Linked DNA regions of Homo sapiens. The protein of the gene in region 1 binds, or shares a complex with, the protein of each later gene. Each region holds a gene or a part of one and is shown on either strand. Other genes may lie near its edges. The genes, in order: CYFIP2 and NCKAP1.

The links.
Region 2: CYFIP2 (region 1) and NCKAP1 share a complex: the UniProt entries of both Homo sapiens proteins name them as parts of the WAVE1 complex.

The regions. Positions count from the first base shown.
Region 1 is NC_000005.10:157,260,725-157,269,720, reverse strand, and holds the start of CYFIP2 (cytoplasmic FMR1-interacting protein 2), read right to left. Parts: upstream 3,599-8,996; 5' UTR 3,526-3,598; exon of another isoform or gene 3,137-3,525; intron 2,941-3,136; exon of another isoform or gene 2,775-2,940; intron 398-2,774; exon of another isoform or gene 138-397; intron 1-137. UniProt on the Homo sapiens protein: Involved in T-cell adhesion and p53/TP53-dependent induction of apoptosis. Does not bind RNA. As component of the WAVE1 complex, required for BDNF-NTRK2 endocytic trafficking and signaling from early endosomes.
Region 2 is NC_000002.12:182,908,680-182,917,172, forward strand, and holds the end of NCKAP1 (nck-associated protein 1), read right to left. Parts: 3' UTR 436-8,493; downstream 1-435. UniProt on the Homo sapiens protein: Part of the WAVE complex that regulates lamellipodia formation. The WAVE complex regulates actin filament reorganization via its interaction with the Arp2/3 complex. Actin remodeling activity is regulated by RAC1.

The DNA.
Region 1 (8,996 bases):
AAGTGACACACAATATATAATTAATAAATTGTTTCTTAAGGAATGGAGGGCATTTACCCAAAAGAGTCACACATTCAGGAGGCTCCTTCTCTATTTCCACGGCTTTTTTTTCTCAGACTGGGATTTACAGACATTACCTCATCCGCAGGCTTTCATGATGACAGGCAGGTAACAGTTGGGCAGGCTGCCTTCCATTGCTCAATTTTGAACGTCAGAGAGGTAGTGGCTGGTTTAAGGGCACACAGCAAGTCAGGGATCCTGTGTCCCATGCTCACTGTGCTGCTCTGTCTGCCCTGGAAGCAAAGCATGCCCTCAACATTTTTGGATGGTTGCAAAATGCTGAATTCTCACAGAGGAAGAGGCCCTTCCTTAACTCTACGTGTTGAAATGTGAGAATGGCCCTGGGCTTCTGCTTGGCTTGTTCCCTCCCACTTCTCCCTACCTACTCAGGTTCCACCCACCTCTCTTGTGCTACTTAAGAGCACTTCCCACCTGAAGCCTTTCACTTCATGCCCTATCACTCTTAACTTTCCCTTCCTTCGGCCGGTAAACTTGGGGCTGGGTTTACTGGTCACAGAGACCAACTTCCCTCAAAAAAGCAAAATTCAGGAAAGCTCTGGAGGGAGAGGGGCTGGTAATAGCCAAGGGTTGATTACATACATAAGCCAAATTCTTAATGATTATGTAATTAATACATTATAACAATAAATACATAAATATGCTAGTACTTACTATGTGCTAAGCATTCTGCTCGGCACTTTCATGCACCCCTTGGGTAGTAAGAGCATCCAAAGATATTCTAGTTCCTCCCCTGCCTCCATTCACTGCCAAGAAGGCAGCAGCCTGCCCCCCTTCTCCCACCATCTCACTACTGATGCAGGGGCCATCCCCTGGACCCTAGGCATGGCTTTGCTCCTCAGAATGACAGGACCAAAAGCCTTTCATAAAGACTCCAGTGAGGTGACTGATGTCTGGCTTTGTCAATTACAAGTGAATAATTAATACTTGCCAGTAAAGAAATAGACTCATTGTTACGGTGGCCACATGGAGGCTACAAAAGGCCATTTTGTGACGCTTTTGGTGGACCCCTGGGGCCAACAGTGGTCCAAAGAAGCTGCGTTGAGAGTGTAGTCCAATCTTTAAACGTAGGGACTGGGACCCGTACTGTTTTCCAGGAGCGCTTTTCCCGTTAATTAGCTTGTAGCCGATTCATCATCTCATTCAGCTTTCTGGTTGATGACAGCAGCAGAGGCCACTGAACATCAGAGAGGGCATGATTTATCAGAGGGGTCATGTAGTGTTCTACCAGGGCCTTTTACCGGTTTTTGAATTCATGTCTACTTCCTTCTCTGGGCCAGCATCTGATTTGAGTAAAACTCTCCAACCCCACTGGGTTGTACATCCGACTCTTGGCCTAATGCCTAAAGCAAGTTTTTCCTTTTTCATTTTCCAGCAGGGACTGAACAAGGCAGCCTTGGGTGCCTACAGAACCGGTCAGAACTGGCCAGGAAATATAATAAAGAAGCTTAGTGAGCAGAGAGCTAATGCCCCCAGCCAGAGGCTCAGTGCGCACAACTAGCTAGAGGCACTGACTTTGTAAGCAACAACACTATCTTCTTGAGGTCTAATAATTGCCTTGGCAAAGGGCAGCCAATGCCAACGAGGAACCCTGTGTACACAAGTTTCTCATCCCGAAAGTGGACACTGGGTGCTCAAAAAATGCCTTCTGGTGACAGTAACACCTGACCAGTCAAACAAACATGCACGCATGCACATGCATGCATACACACTCTTACAGCATTCCTGCCTGCAGGGCCAAAGCTGCCCTTGCCAAATACAGAGCTGACAGCTGCTAGATATTGTCATTTCAGGGACCCGTTCCCAAAAGAACTACCCAGCTCCCCACCTCCACTTCCAGCCCACTGTTTGAAATTCTACCATTAGTGATAGCAAATATTTCTACAGTGTTTCCCATTAAAGCTTTGTTTCCCATTAAAATGCCTCCATCCTCTGTTTCTTTTCCGGTCAAATGACTTGTAAAGCACCTGCTCTGCATCAAATGGGAACTTCTTTTGTATTTAGCTCTTCAAGATAAACACAATCATTGGCTCCTTTCTTGAAAACCATTTCTGACACTGGAGACTGGGGGAAGGGCAGGGCACTGTATGGAAGTGGAGGTGGGAGGCCACCAGGAGGGCCACAGAGAGAGGGTCTAATGGTGGAGAAAGCAACCATCAAGGCCTTCACAGGCCTGCCCAAAGATATGGACCTGATTTTTGCCCTCTAAGATCTCAGGGACCCAGGTTGCTGGCACAGCCTGTATCCAAGAGTAAGGTGAGACCCACTGCCCTAACTGGGACACAGACAGGAGGCAGGAAATGGGAACACAGGAACCGACAGTCTCCTGATTTGCCCCTCCTGCCAGCAGGCCTGCCTCCGTCTCCCTGCCCATGCTGAGGGCACAGGCACCCAGGAACTAGCAGAAAAAGATCCTTGTCCCATTCTTGGCCTAGCTGGAAGGACAGCTGATGGCTCATCAGCCCTGGTGAGTGTTTCCACTGTGCTGGGGAAAGTAGGCAAGCAAAGGTCAAAATCAGATTCCCTGTGCTGGGGAGGCACCTGGGCTGTCAGTGTCCTTTCCAGCCGGGTTCTGGATATAGAGGGCCATACTTATGTGGAACATGCTACCTGCCCCCATCCCCAAGCAGAGAGCACCTCCTCCTCTTCTTTTGCACATAGGTGGGCTGTTCTTTGGGGTGAGGGGTAGGGCTGACCTGAAAAGTAGACGCCACAACAGACAGGCAAGCATCTTCCTGGTTCTTCAGAGCTCAAGAAAAAAACCACCTTTTCCCCCAGGAGTCAGCCCACTCATCCCCTTCCCCCACTTCCACCGTGCCCGCAGCCAGCTTGGTGAGCGATGCTAGTGTAGGCCAGAAAGCTTCCAAGCGGGTCAGACCTGCTCCTCTCTCATCAAAGCCCTCCGCCCCCAAACATCGACGCTGCGCCCCTCGCCCCACCCATCACACGTTCTGTGTGCCCGAGGCGGCTGCCAGGCGGGCCCAGGCGGCTCTCGCTGGCCCTGGGGGAGGTGACGGTGGTCACGGCGGCAGAGGCAGGGGCCAGCGCTCTGCAGTACCTGGACTCGAGGATGTCGCCGCTGCCGGGCTCGCGGCCGCTGCAGGTGTCTCCGGTCCCTGAGATTAGCACCGCCTCCTCCCGGGCTGGCGGCTCCGGCCCAGGCCGCGCACCTGCTGCTGCGGCTCCCCCGCCGCCGCGCCGGAGCTCCGCGATGTGCCCGCGCCTCCCGGGCAGAGGGTCCGTGCCGCGGGACGCACGGTGGGTCCGAGGGGGAAAGGGGCCGCGTGGGGCCTGAGGCCGGGCCTCGGGCTAGCCCGGGCACAGCGCCGAGCGCCCCCCGCGGGCCGGGAGAGGGGGCGGCCCTTCGCGCATCCTCACGGCCTCATCCCCGTCCCCGGCGGCATCCTAGTCCCCGTGCCCGGCCCGAGGCCTGCGAGGGCCGCTTACCTGGCTCTGCGGCGGGTCCAGGGGAGGGGCCTGAGGCTACCGCAGGGCCCCGCGCCGGGGCGCAGGATGCTCTGCCCCGCTCCGCTGCGCCGCGCTCGGCCCCGCCCCGGCCCCGCTGCTCCGCCCGCCGCGGCTCCGCCCCCACCCAGCGCCCGCCCCTTCGCCGCAGCGGCTGTCACACAAAGGGCAGGAAATGGCTGCGGCGAGGGTCTCTCCACGCTCTCCGCTGTACCGCCGGCGCACCCAGGACCTGCCTCTCGGTTTCGGAGGACCGCTCAGCCCCCAGGCTTCCTGCCCTGGGGGCGGGAAAGGGAGGGAAGGCTTCTTCCACGGCCTCCATCACCGGGAACCACACCTGCAGCAACCCGAGGACGAGAGCTTCGGCCGCGTTCGGATCTTATTGGCCCCACATGATTTCCAAGTGCTCTTTTATCAACCCAGTCTTTATTGATTACCTATCCTGTTCCAAGTACCGTGCCAGGACTTGGGTGTGCACTGGTGTACAAAAGACAGGGTCCTGCCCCCTTGGAGTTTTATCACCTGCCAGGAGAAACAGGTGTAAATTAACCTAGCAAACGTCCAGTTACAGCCCAAAGTGCTCTGAGGAGAAGGAGCAGGGTGAAGTGACAGAAGATGCAACTGGGGCTAGGGGAAGGGGCCTTCCACCAATTGAGCTTGGTCGCTGATAGGGCTCCTTCGCTTAAGAATAAGTTCTTCCGCTCCCTTCCAGTTCCCTGGAGAAGAGTCCCTGAAGCTGCCACCTCTTTTACAGGGGCCTGCCTCAACTTCATTCTGGAAGAATTGCCTAACGGACAAATAGGTGGCAGGAAGCACTGAGAGGACAGGTACCTTTCTCTTCAAGGCTTATCTGCCGTGTCGGGCTCTTTAAAGAAGCAATTATCTGCCCAGCGGTGGCTCACACCTGTAATACCAAAACTTTGGGAGGCCGAGGAGAGAGGATTGCTTGAGCTCAGGAATTGGAGACCATCCTGGGCAACTCAACGAAACTTCATCTCTACTAAAAATTAAAAAAAAAAAAAAATAGATGGGTGTGGTGGCATCCACCTTTTGTCCCAGCTACTCAGGAGGCTGAGGTGGGAGGATTGCTTGAGCCTGGGAGATTGAGGCTACAGTGAGCTATGATCCTGCCGCCGCACTCCAGACTGGGTGACAGAGTGAGACTCTGTCTCAAAAAAAAAAAAAAAAGAATGAAAGAGAGAGACGGGGGGAGAGAGAGAGAGAGAAAGGAAGAAAGAAAAAGAAAGAGAGAGAAAGAAGAGAAGGAAAGAAAGAAGAGAAAGAAAGAGAGAAAAGAAAAAGAGAAAGAAACAATTCTCATTGAAATCCAGCCTGGTAGGCCTTCAGACCAGGCTGAAGTCAGGCTGCACCAAATTCTAACCTTGAGACACCTGAGCAGGTCACTTCACCACTCTGCTCCACAGAGGTCACCGTATCTGCAACACAGGGAATAACAGTTGCCCTTTATACCTTACAGGGTAAATAATTTGAAAACATTTGAGACATTGTGGAGTGTATGTAGATATAAGGAGTGGTTTCCTAAGGCCCACAAATTTATACTTAATCACTCAGCTGTTCCTAATAAGGGCAATTTGTGGAGGAGCCCCGTTATTCAAGCTCCAGCAAAGGACTTGTGGAAGCCTTTGCTTTCCTTTACTGATCTCACCTTATTTCCCACGTGCTCAGAATCCATAATTCCTTGTGGTTTGATCTTAAATCGCTAATTCCAATTCAAATTGCTATTTCGGAAAAAAATGACTTATATATATATATATATACACACACATACATTTCTTCCCTGGTTCAGTGTGAAAAGCTGTGGGGGTGTTTGTGGAGGATGGGTTTAAAAACAGAACTGAGGTTTCCTTTTTAAAAAATGTTTCATTTTCCACCGTGATCCTTGGGATTTCAAGTTCAGTGATTACAAATACTTAACAATGAGAATCCCAATAAATCAGATTTTCATTCTAAGGGGCATATTATTGCAGATGGTATAGTTTTTTGGAAGACGTATTTCTCCCTGTTGTTCCTTCCCTGTCTTTTCACCTTCAGGAACAAGTTGCCTAAAAACAGAAAAGACTATTACATATATATTTGGTTAGATCTTAGGCAAAAATAACTCCGACCTCTGAGTTCTATTTGTGTATAAAGGAGAGCAGTATGGTCTTTTGAAGCCACTGTGTTGGAAATCCAGAGGCTTGCCTTTTGGTTCTAGTTTTGCAACTAACAGAAGAATGATCTTAGGCAAGGAGCCTCACCCCTGTTTCCTCACCTGTTAAGTGAAGTAAGTTGGATGCTCTCCAACTTCCCTCTGAATGTGGAAAATTACATGAGTTAAAGGGCACGTCCCTCCCAGGCTTAAGGCACTTCCCTAGCTCCCCACTGCCCCCCGATGAAGCCCAAACTCTCCAGTGGCCGGAGAGGGTCTTTAAGAGCTGGCAGCTATCTCTCCATGTGAACAAGCTTGCTGTGCTTCAGCTAAAAGGAACAGCTTTTAGTTCCTCAAACTTGCTGTGTTCTCTGTTGTGCTCGACATTCGTACATGCAAGGCTTCTTCAATGGCAGTTTCTGTCCCCCCATTCCCTCCCTCCACATTCCACACTTTTTCCCAGTTTACCTGATGAAGTTCTGTTCATCTTCCTGGTATTCCTCTAGATGTCGCTTCCTCCAAGATTCCTACATGTCTGGGTTAGCTTGAGATTAGTTGTCTATGTGTCCTTAGCTGCCTGGGCTCCCTCTATCACCCCACGTATTAGTCTGCATTATAATTGTCAACACACTTCCCTGTATTCCACCATGAGACCATAAAATCTAAGGGAGCAGGGATATGTCTGTCTTGCTTTCCCATTGCATCCTTGGAGCCTGGTACTTAACAGGAGTTCAGTAAAAATGGATGGAATGAACACCCATAGGTGACATTTTTAAACTTTGCCACTGAAATGTATAGCTGTCTGTCTACTGCCTTCAGATTTCCTTCACATCCAACCCCAAGCTGTGCATCAGCAATGAAATGGTAGAGGATATCAATAAGAATTGCTTTGGTACTTGCAAAGCTGTGGCCCACATGTTGTCCATGTGGCAACATTACCTTGTGTTTTAGAAAAGCTTCAAGTTATAATCCCAGCACTTTGGGAGGCCGAGGCAGGTGGATTGCCTGAGGTCAGGAGTTCGAGACCAGCCTGGCCAACATAGTGAAACCCAGTTTCTACTAAAAATACAAAAAATTAGCTGGGCATGGTGGCGAGCGCCTGTAATCCCAGCTACTCAGGAGGGTGAGGCAGAATTGCTTGAACCCGGGAGGTGGAAGTTGTAGTGAGCCGAGATCACACTGTTGCACTCCAGCCTGGGCAACAAGAGCAAAACTCTGTCTCAAAAAAAAAAAAAATATATATATATATATGTATTTTAAAACTATCAGGAGACCCTGCTTTATAGACACCAGTAATGAAGTATCTGGAATGGGCATGAAGGGAAAACATAAATAATGATAATAATAATAATGGCTAACATTTACCAAGTACATTACCTCATTTAATTTTTCGTAATTTTTCTATAAGGAAAATACAATCATTTTTCCCATTTTTATAATTGAGGCAATTAAGGTTTAATAATTTGCCCAAGGTAGTGAAGTCAAACCCATGCTTTTTACCACAATCTCATACAGCCTCACTTTCCCTCTTCCAAGCTAAGTCCATTTGTTTACTAATATGCTACCTTATTCTAAAAACATATTAAATGTAAGTTACAGGAATACATTATGTTAAAAAATTAAAAATCAGCAAGAAATTTTTTAAAAAGAAGGAAAAGAGTAGAGAGATGAGATGGAGAATCGAATGTACATAAGACCAAAATGTAAACAAAACAAAAATCAATCACAGCTCTACCTGCTATGAGCTTGCTAACACATTTGGTTCTAAGTATTTATGTGGGTGGCAGGAAAAGATAAACTTGATGGTCAGTTACAGAATTTACATTGGCCATTCTGTAGATAGAACCTGACCACTTGCTCAAAATTGCCTCATTTTATAGGCAAGAGAATTGCTTGAGCCCAGGAGGTGGAGGTTGCAGTGAGCAAAGATGGTGCGGCTGCATTCCAGCCTGGGCAACAGAGCAAAACACTGTATCAAAACAAAGCAAAACAAAACAAAACAAAAAAGTATATCCCTTAGATTCTTGTGAAGGTTATATGAAATGATAATGTAACACACTAAGCAGAGTCTGGTACATAATAAATGCTCAAAAATGGGATTATTATTATGATTTTCTTTTTGAGACAGAGTCTCACTCTGTCGCCCAGGCTGGAGTGCAGTGGCATGATCTTGGCTCACTGCAACCTCCGCCTCCCAGGTTCAAGTGATTCTCCTGCCTCAGCCTCCCGAGTAGCTGGGATTATGGGCATGTGCCCCTACACCTGGCTAATTTTTGTATTTTTAGTAAAGATGTAGTTTCACCATGTTAGCCAGGCTGGTCTCGAACTCCTGATCTCAGGTGATCCTCCCGTCTCGGCCTCCCAAAGTGCCAGGATTACAGGTGTGTGCCACCACGCCTGGCCTGTGGCCATCTCTTGTTGCTATTGTGGTGAACTCAAGTGTTGCCAGTATCCACTTCAAGTGCTGTGTGATGCTAATCATCTCTGAGTGAGCAATTCATCTCTCATGATGAAACATTTTTCATCATGTTTAGTGTAATACAGCAAACCTTGAATAACACCATGGAACCCACATGAAGTGACACTAGTGATGCTGAAAGTGTTCCCAAAAAGCAGAGAAAAGTCATAACATTACAAGAAAAAAGCTGAATTTTCTTGATATGTACCATAGATTGAGGTCTGCAGCTGCAGTTGTCCATCATTTTAAGATGAATGAATTTAGCATAAGGACCACTGTAAAAAGAAAGAAAGAAAGAGAAAGAGAGAAAGAAGGAAAGAAAATTCATGAAGCCGTAGCTGCGGCTCCCAGCAGGTATGAAAACCTTGCACTTTTTGTTAAATACCATTTTAGCTCATATTGAAAATGCAGGTTTTAGGTGGGTGCGTTGCTATAAAGATTGCTATAAGAAAGACGTACCCATAGACTCTAATATAAGTCAGGAAAAAGTGAAGTCATTATATGACAATTTAAAGCAAAAGAAAGGTGAAGGATCTAAAGCTGAAGAATTTAATGCCAGCAAAGATGGTTTGATAATTTTAGAAAGAGGTTTGGCTTAAAAAATGTCACGATAACAGGAGAAGCAGCTTCTGCTGACCAAGAGATAGCAGACAAGTTATCAGATGCCATTAACAAAATCATGGAGGAGAAAGGATAACTAATTGCCTGAACAGGTTTTTAATTTGGATGAAAGTACCCTATTCTGGGGGGAAAAAAAAGCCACAAAGAACATTGCTTAGTAAGGAAAAGAAGCGAGCACCAGGATTTAAGACAGGAAAGGATAGGCTAACTCTGCTGTTTTGTGCA
Region 2 (8,493 bases), on another chromosome or scaffold:
TATTTAAAAGTTCTGTATGGCTAAAAAAAAAATAAAGACAAATGATAAGTTTAGAAAACATTTGCCAAATATGTGATAGACAAAAACAATTTCATTAATATGTGTACATTTTGTTAATAAGTGACCTCTTACAAGTCAATAAACATACAAAAAAGATGTTCAACCTCACTCAGACAATATTTTTCATCTATCCAATCGACAGAGGTTAAAAAATTGGATAATATCCATTGCTGGACCATGAGGACACAGGGATCATATATCGCAGATGGGAGTGTCAACTGGTACAACTGTTATATGATAATGTACCACATTTCTGGGACTTTTTAAAGCATATATATTTATCCAAGTGCTCAAATATATATATTCAGATGTTCACTACTGTATTTTTTTGAAGAATGCAATCGGACTGTTCAATAGGACACATAACACATTTAGGCTATTTCAAGATAATGGTTTATTTTGACACCACCAAAAGGAATGTAGATCTCTCTGTTTTGATCTGGAAATAGGTTCAATACACATTATATCAAATTTACCGTTTCAACCATTTTTAAGCATACAGTTCTGTGGCATTAAGTACATTCATGTTGCTGTGCAACAACCACCATCATCCACTGTCAGAACTTTTTCGTCTTCCCCAACTGAAACTCTGTTCCCTTCATACACCTTCTCTTCATTTCCCTCTCCTTGCCAGCCCCTGCCAACCAACATTCTACTTTCTATCAATTTGACTATTTTAGGTACCTAATATAAGAGGAATTATACAATATCTGTTCTTTTGTGGCTGGCTTATTTCACTCAGCATAATTAATGTCTTCAAGGTTCATTCATATTGTCTCATGTGTCAAAATTTCTTTCCTTTTTAAGGCTGAATAATATGCCACCGTACATATATATCTCATTTGTTTTTTGATTCATTTGTTGATGGACGCTCGGATTTACTGCCTTTTCTTGTATGTTGTTGTTTTATTTGTTTAAGTAAACAATCACTTTTAAAGCCAAGGTTTCCTTGAGAAGATATTTAGGGCACAGGACACCAAAATACAAATAAGTCAACTAGAAATGAGAATTTTCTGTGCTCCATTTTGAATTTGATTTGTAGTTCTCAGAATAGAACAGGGAGCCCAACCTGAGCTGAGCTTCTTGGGTACTCCTAAGAAAAACACTTCCCTGGAATCCATTCTCAGCCACCGATTTAGATAAGGGCCAAATAGCCTCCTGATCCAAGGCCACAAATTCTGTCACATTTGGTGTTCAGACACGTATAACCAAGTCTGTTGGAATGGATGGGGTGGGAATTCAGTGAAGGCCAAAATACAAAAGAAAATGATAGGGTCGCAGACAGAAAGTTTTATTCTAAGGAGTTCAACCGCTGAGCCCTAGAGTTAAGGAGAAACAGTGGTTTCTGCAAAGCTGTGGTAGCTGGCTCTTTAACTGGTTCAGACTCTACTATCTTGGAGGACTGCAGGTGCCCTGGTAGCCAAAAGGGCTCTAAGTTCAAACTCAAGGAGCTGCCTCACTAAACTCTACATCATTTTGGAGTCCAAGTAAACCTGCTGTGGGACAACCCTTGCCACCCCACTCAAGCTACAGTTTTTGATTGAGTAGGAAAGCCAGCATGATTTGTGTTTCTGCATCCAGGCAAATGTACTAAAATTCTTTGAGAGATGAGAGGAAATATTTTTCAGAAGCTTGGAGGTCTGAGTACACATGTGGGGAAAACAGTGATTATAAATTGGGCATGGATGTTAATGTATACTCATATGTGCCCACAACAGTTGGAGCCTTGGGAACAAGGAAGTTACACTGCCTCGGCAAAGAAAGTGCTTTTCTCCACTGGAACTGCAAAGGAGAATCTCAGCTCTAGGAGAGCCTCAGACCATTCAGGATTCAGAACCTAGATAGATGATGCTGTGAGGGCTGCGGCTGTGCTCTGCACTTCTGTGTACGTCGAACAAGACAATAGATGTGAAAGAGCAACCCAGAAGTTAGTCCATGTTTGGTGGAAAGGGGTCCTCAGCACCCTCATAGGTCATGCATCCTCAAAACCTTTTCTTCTAGGAAATTCCTGGCAATGCAATCTAATTTCTTCACTCCTCATCTTGAGGGGTAAGTGGGCAAACATCAAGAACACTGGCTTATCAGCAACCTTCAGAGAAAGTTACTGAGAAGAAGGTGATTGCTAAGTATTTACAGATTAAAGACTCAACCTGTATTCATGCTCTGATGGTCCAACATTATAACTTGGAAATAAAAATAAAATCCTAAGCTCCCCCCCCACATTTGACTAAACAGACCCTCTCCTGGCCAAGAGGACTTCAGGGAAACCTTAAAAACTGAGTTCCCGGCCATGATGGGATGGGAGGTTGGGCACATCTCATTATACCCCCTCCTCACTAACTACCATTAGGTGTTCTTTCCTAAGAGTTAAACAGAAACCAGCCCTTTGGAAAGACCTGTTGCACCTCTGATTACAACCAACCTCATGACTACCCCTCCCTTTTTGCTCTTTGACAACTGACCAGCATTCCTTCCTATTAAGGGAGTCCACTGACCATGGAGTGGTTCTGGCCAGTCTAGGGAAGATGCAGTGAGGGTTTTTGTGTCCTCTGCTTCACCTTTTGATGTCAGAGGGCTGAAAATCCCACCCTTGGATCATGCTAACACCACTAAGCCTTACATAGTGGGGAATTCAAACACATGGGAAGGGGATTAATTCACAAAACAGCCTATACTATATGAATAAGACCAAAAAATGGCCATCAGTTCATGACTTTATTAACTTATATAGTTAATACATGTTTTATATACTGTTATAAACAGACTATGTGAAAAAATTTGAAATATAAACTCTTAAACCATGAAAACATAAGTCAAAATTCTGTTACTTCAAATGTTAAATATTTCAGTCATCTATGAATGGCCATCATAATGATTTGAAACTAGCAAAGTTATCAGTTAGGTTTGCTATATCCTTTTTTTTCTCCCAAGCTGTTTGAGCTTTTATGTTAACACCTATACTACTACAATGAGAAAACAGATTGCTGTTGATGGGAATTATTAAAAAAAAACAAAACAAACAGAACCGCTTTTGGAGAAACTTGCCCTTATATACTCTCTTATAATTGCCTCAACAAATTCAAGATGGTTATACTTTTTAAAAAAGTTTTTCATGATTTTATTAGAAAGCAGTAACTGCATTTCTGGTAGGCCTTTCTGATAGGTCACTTGAGAATGACTTTTGCATTATTCATGCATTTTCCACAATAGACACTTCATGTCTTTGAATTATTTTAGTTGGAGTAGGAAATGCAAACAAATCGGCAAATGGACTTAGCCCTTGAAAGCTTATGTCCAGCTGAGTAGTTATATCAATCACATCATGAAAAATTCCTTTTACCTAAAAAACTGCTGAAGTTCAGAGGTTGTAATTTTTTTTTCTCAGCATAGGACAGACTGAAAAAGAAAATGAAGACCATCTTAAAATATCTTTGGATATTGGCAAAAATTTAGGGAGCTTTTTGATATGAGAAAAATATGCTTTTGCCTTTAAGGCAACATGTTGCCCATTACGTATTAATAAACTGGATTCAACAAAGACATTCTTACCCATTGCTAAAAATCAACCAACTATAAACAGTTACCACAGTTCTGTTTTTGCCAGTGCCAAAAAGATTTCCAAATCTTTTCAGCTAAAAAGCCAGCAAAGATCAAAGAGTTTTCACATGAGCTCTCTATGTGGCAATGAGATACAAGTGCCATCTTTTAGCACATTATAATAATCCTGTTGTGCAGTACTCCTTTCCAATGACCTGTAAAAATTATATATTCAGAAAGGCATTTTTCTCAGCAAAAGGGAAAAAGTACGAATTAGGAAAGGTACATTTAACAAGCTCAATGATCTATTATAAGTTAATACACTTTTTCCCCATTCTGTGGAGTTCAGAATTATAAATGCTTGGCTAGTTAGCCATAATAAAAATGGAATTTGAATGTTAGAGTGCAACCTGACAAAATGATTTATTACTCCTTCGTCATTGAAACTAATACACGCTCTAACCTTTATAGCTTTTCACTTACTCTGTTAAGCATGCCTTGCACCAAATTAAAATATGTGCACTAGCACAATACTATAGACAGATCTCAAAACCAAAGAAAGATAGAGGAAGAAAGGAAGGAAGGAAGGAAGGAAGGAAGGAAGGAAGGAAAGAATTCAGCCAGATGAACTTTAGTTAAGTGCAATTTATGTTTTTGCTAATGGCATCATACTAATTTTCCAATGCATTCACCTATCCATTGGCCATGGTTACTATCATTGAAACTTTCACTTGAGCCTCTGTTCAGTTTTGACGTTACCATGTTGAATAGTTGTTATTTGTTTTACTGTCTGCCTCCTTCATCAGATGATGAGTAGTGACCCTAGTTTTACAGTCAAGATCAAACATGTAAAGTCTGTCTCCTCCACTATATTATAAGCTCTGTGACATCAAGGACCAAATCTGGTTCATGTACATGCCAAGCATTTAGGACACTATGTCCTGTGTATTTATTGATTCAACAAATATTTATTGAGGACTGTTGTGGCTTGAATGTGTCCCCGAAAAGTTCATGTGTTGGAAATTTGGTCCCCAGTGCAGCAGTGTTGAGAGGTGGGACTTCTGGGAGGTGATTGGTTCACAAGAGCTCTGCCCTCATGAGTGAATGAATTTATTTCTAGATTAATGGATTGATGGGCTATCAAGGGAGTGGGTTAGTTACCACAAAAGTGAGTCTGTTATAAAAGTCAGTTTGGCTCTCTCTGGTGAATCCCACCCCCACACCATGTGATGCTCTGTGTTACCTCAGGACTCTACAGAGACCCCACTAGCAAGAAGGCCCTCACTAGATGAGAACCCTTGACCTTGTACTTCCCAGCATCTAAAATGGTAAGCAATAAATTTCTTTACTTTATAAATTACCCAGTCTCGGGTATTCAGCTATAGCAACAAAAAATGAACGAAGATAAGGACCTTCTCTGCACAGGGCCCTTTTGATTGCAAGAAATATAATCTAGTCAAATTAATTAAAATGAAAAAAGAGTCTACTTCCTAATTCTCATCCTCTCATGCTTCTTTGCTTCTCTGTCTGCATCTGCCTCATTCTTTTTTCCTGATCAGCACTCTGATGCTCTCTGCCCCCACAGCCTGTGGAAATACAGGAAACTTCACAATGGTGCACAGTCCATACTCCATGAAACTTTCTGCTTAAGTAGCCCCCACAACCCTCAGCCTCTTGGTTCTAACTTAGTGAGAAAACTCTGATAAGAACCCACCATTTACAAGCTATTGGACTAACTCCCCTTGGATCAGTTTTCTTCCCTCATTTAATCAGTTGTAGCCAGGGAGAAGTCACATATTGGTATCAGAGTGTGCAGTCACAGAAGGAACTCCCTTTAGCAGTATCTCCCCTTAAATGAAGTTATAGTTAGGGCAGGTAATCGTAGACAAGACTAGTTAAACTGTGTTTTTAGTTAGCTTTGTTTTGTATTTTATCATTCTGTCCTCAGTATCTAGCACATAGTAGGTATTTTAAAAACTATATTCATTGAACTGATGTTAGGATATGACATAATATATTATTTCTAACTTTTATAGTTTATGTGAAATGGGGAAGGCAAGTGGAGGGAGCTGACGTTTTGGACTCTGGACAGATACAATACATACCTGCTGCCAGGATGAATAGATTAAAACAGGCAATTTCTATTTCTTTAACTTTCCTACTCAAGCATTGTTTTTAAATGAAAACTAACTCAGCATATCAAGCTTTAAAAAACCAATTAAAAAATTAAAAGAGGAAATGGAGATACTCTAGTATGCAATTTATATGAAACCCATTACCCACTATAACCATCTTTGAGGACACTCTGCATTTTAGAAGTGCCACAATAGCATATTCTCTCCTTTTCTGGTTCCCTTTAAAACTTAAGTCACTTAGAATGACATGAGGGGTTCTATTACTAATTTGAAGAGTAAAAAGAGTAAAAAGGAACAAATTCCCCTCTAATAAATTACCCCCACAGAAAATATGCTGTGAGGTGGGAAAGGCTGATGGCTAGACCGACACTGCAGAGTTCCATTGGTAGAGATGCGCTTTGTGTAATGTTGGGAGCAAGTAATGATTTTTCCTCTTTGTTCTTGTGGAGGGATGCTTTGGGTGCTCAGAGGAGCATTGACTACCTTTTCCATCCCTTCCCTTTAAAGAAATCAGATTTTGTAAACAGTGAAAAAACCAAGAGCAGATGTGATCATTTAAGCTGGGAATGCAGCCATACCGGGTGTCAGAGCATGTTGTGAGCACCTCTACCTGGGTGTCCCCCTAGGGCTACAGCTGCTCTCAAGGTCACTTCCTCTCACACAGACAGGCAGTGAAACTCATGCTGAGGACTCATCTTCTGTACACACTTTTAAGAACTTCTACTTCCAAAGATACAATGAAGTTAATAAATGAAGCAAAGCAGATTTCTAGACTAGGCTTCACATAGGGTGGCTTGCAGCATTTAGAAGCATTTCTCTAGACACCACACCTATTTTCCAACTGTAATATTCTGTATAGAATGCAAATGTTCAGACTTTGCTTTTCAAAAACGTTGTATGGTTCACAGCTGAAGAGAGAATAGTTGAGAGTTGAGTGATCTATCCTTCAAACTACAGGCATGATATTCCTTCACTTGCCAGCAACCCTTGGACCTCTGCAAGGATGTGACAGGAATAGCACAACTCACTAGAGCAGGTATCAGCTGCTCCCTCTAGTCACTTTCTGGGTGCTGTGACCTCCAGCAGCAGAGGCATTCATTCTCCAAGGGTGTTCTATGAGCCTTATTGGTCCTCCCTGTACGATCAGCTGCGAAAGAACTGCCAGTGCAATCTTGAGACTAGATGAGGAGTTACACTGACAGGATAAAATTTCAAGGCTTGCTAATCCTTGTGCATGATGACATGAGATCATCAGACCAGCTTGACTATAGGAGGCATTTCTGTAAAGGGGTAAGATTACAGTTAAGTGTCTCACAGCTCCTGTCTTTTCTATGAAGTACTGACTCTAGCTAGGGGTGAGTCACCAGAATAAAATGATCATTTATTTCAGGACAATGACCTGAGTAGTCACTTTGAAATTTTTCTGATGGCCTCTCTTCTTTGCTCTTGGCATTTCACTTAAATTTTCAGATTTAAAAATAATTTTTTTGCTACGTGGAATGCCTTTTTGATCTATTGCCAATGCTTTCACCTTTTGTCTATTTATACAAGGGGCTCAGATTCTGCATCTTCTCCCCCTGACATCCCAGACAAGTGATTTGTCTCATTGGGAGAAATCTTAGAAACCATGTCTTCGGGGCAGTTTCCTCTCCCTCCCCGTCTCCCTGCTCCTGCTCCTCCCTCTCCCCCTCCCCCACTCCAACTCTCCTTTTCCCTCTGCCATGTAAGAAGTACCTTGCTTCCCCTTCGCCTTCTGTCAAAAAAAAAAAAAAAAAAAAAACATGTCTCTGTGTCATCACTGAGCTGCTGCTATTACAGGTGTAGAAATCCCCAGCTGCCTGTATCTCTGATGCTTCTCCACAGGAACAAAAAGAAACAGAACCACTTGTTCCCAACATGAAGCTAAGGGCATCTGTACCAATGGAGGTCTGTAGCATCTGTCCAGCCACTGGCCTTTCCTAACTTAAAGTAAGATTCTGAGAGTTACACAGGGTAGGAAATTTGACTAAACAGACAGAAAGATGAAATAAACCTAGACCGTGACCTCAAGGCAGTCCCAGAATCAAAGGAGTCAGAGATAAATAATAATTACATTATGATTCAATATGTACTATAATAAAGGCATTTATAAGGTTTAGAAGAAACAGGATGGCATGGTAAGGAAAGGGCAAGTGATGTTTGAGCTTACTGTTTACATTATGTTCAGGAGTTTGCCAGCCAGAATAAGAGAACATTCCATTCCAGAGACAGGGAACAGCATGTGGAAAAGCACAGAAGCTTCCAAGAGCAATTGTCGCAATTGTTCTGGATACTGCAATAACATTTGAAAATACAAGCTTTACATCTTATACATTTTTGTGTATAGTATATAAAAATATAGTATAACATACATATAGTATAGAGCAGTCTTAAAATTAATTTTAGCATCGTTTTCTGTTAAAGTTACATGACAGGGAAAATAATCTTTCCCATTTAAGATAAAGACTCCGATCAGAGCTATAGAATAGACTAACACACAAATGTTACATTTGCATGAGTGGAAGTTCTGATATTATAATACTCATAAAAGCCATGAAAAAACTCTTTGAAGGCAATTTTATAAGTGAAACCAAATAGCCTAATAATACTGGAGAAACTACCACCATTTACACTGAATGCCTACTTTGTGGTAGCCTCTTCTTCCCCACCATCTCATCAATTTATACGCATGATCTTATTTTAATGCTTACAATAGCCCTTTAAAGTAGATATTATCCACATT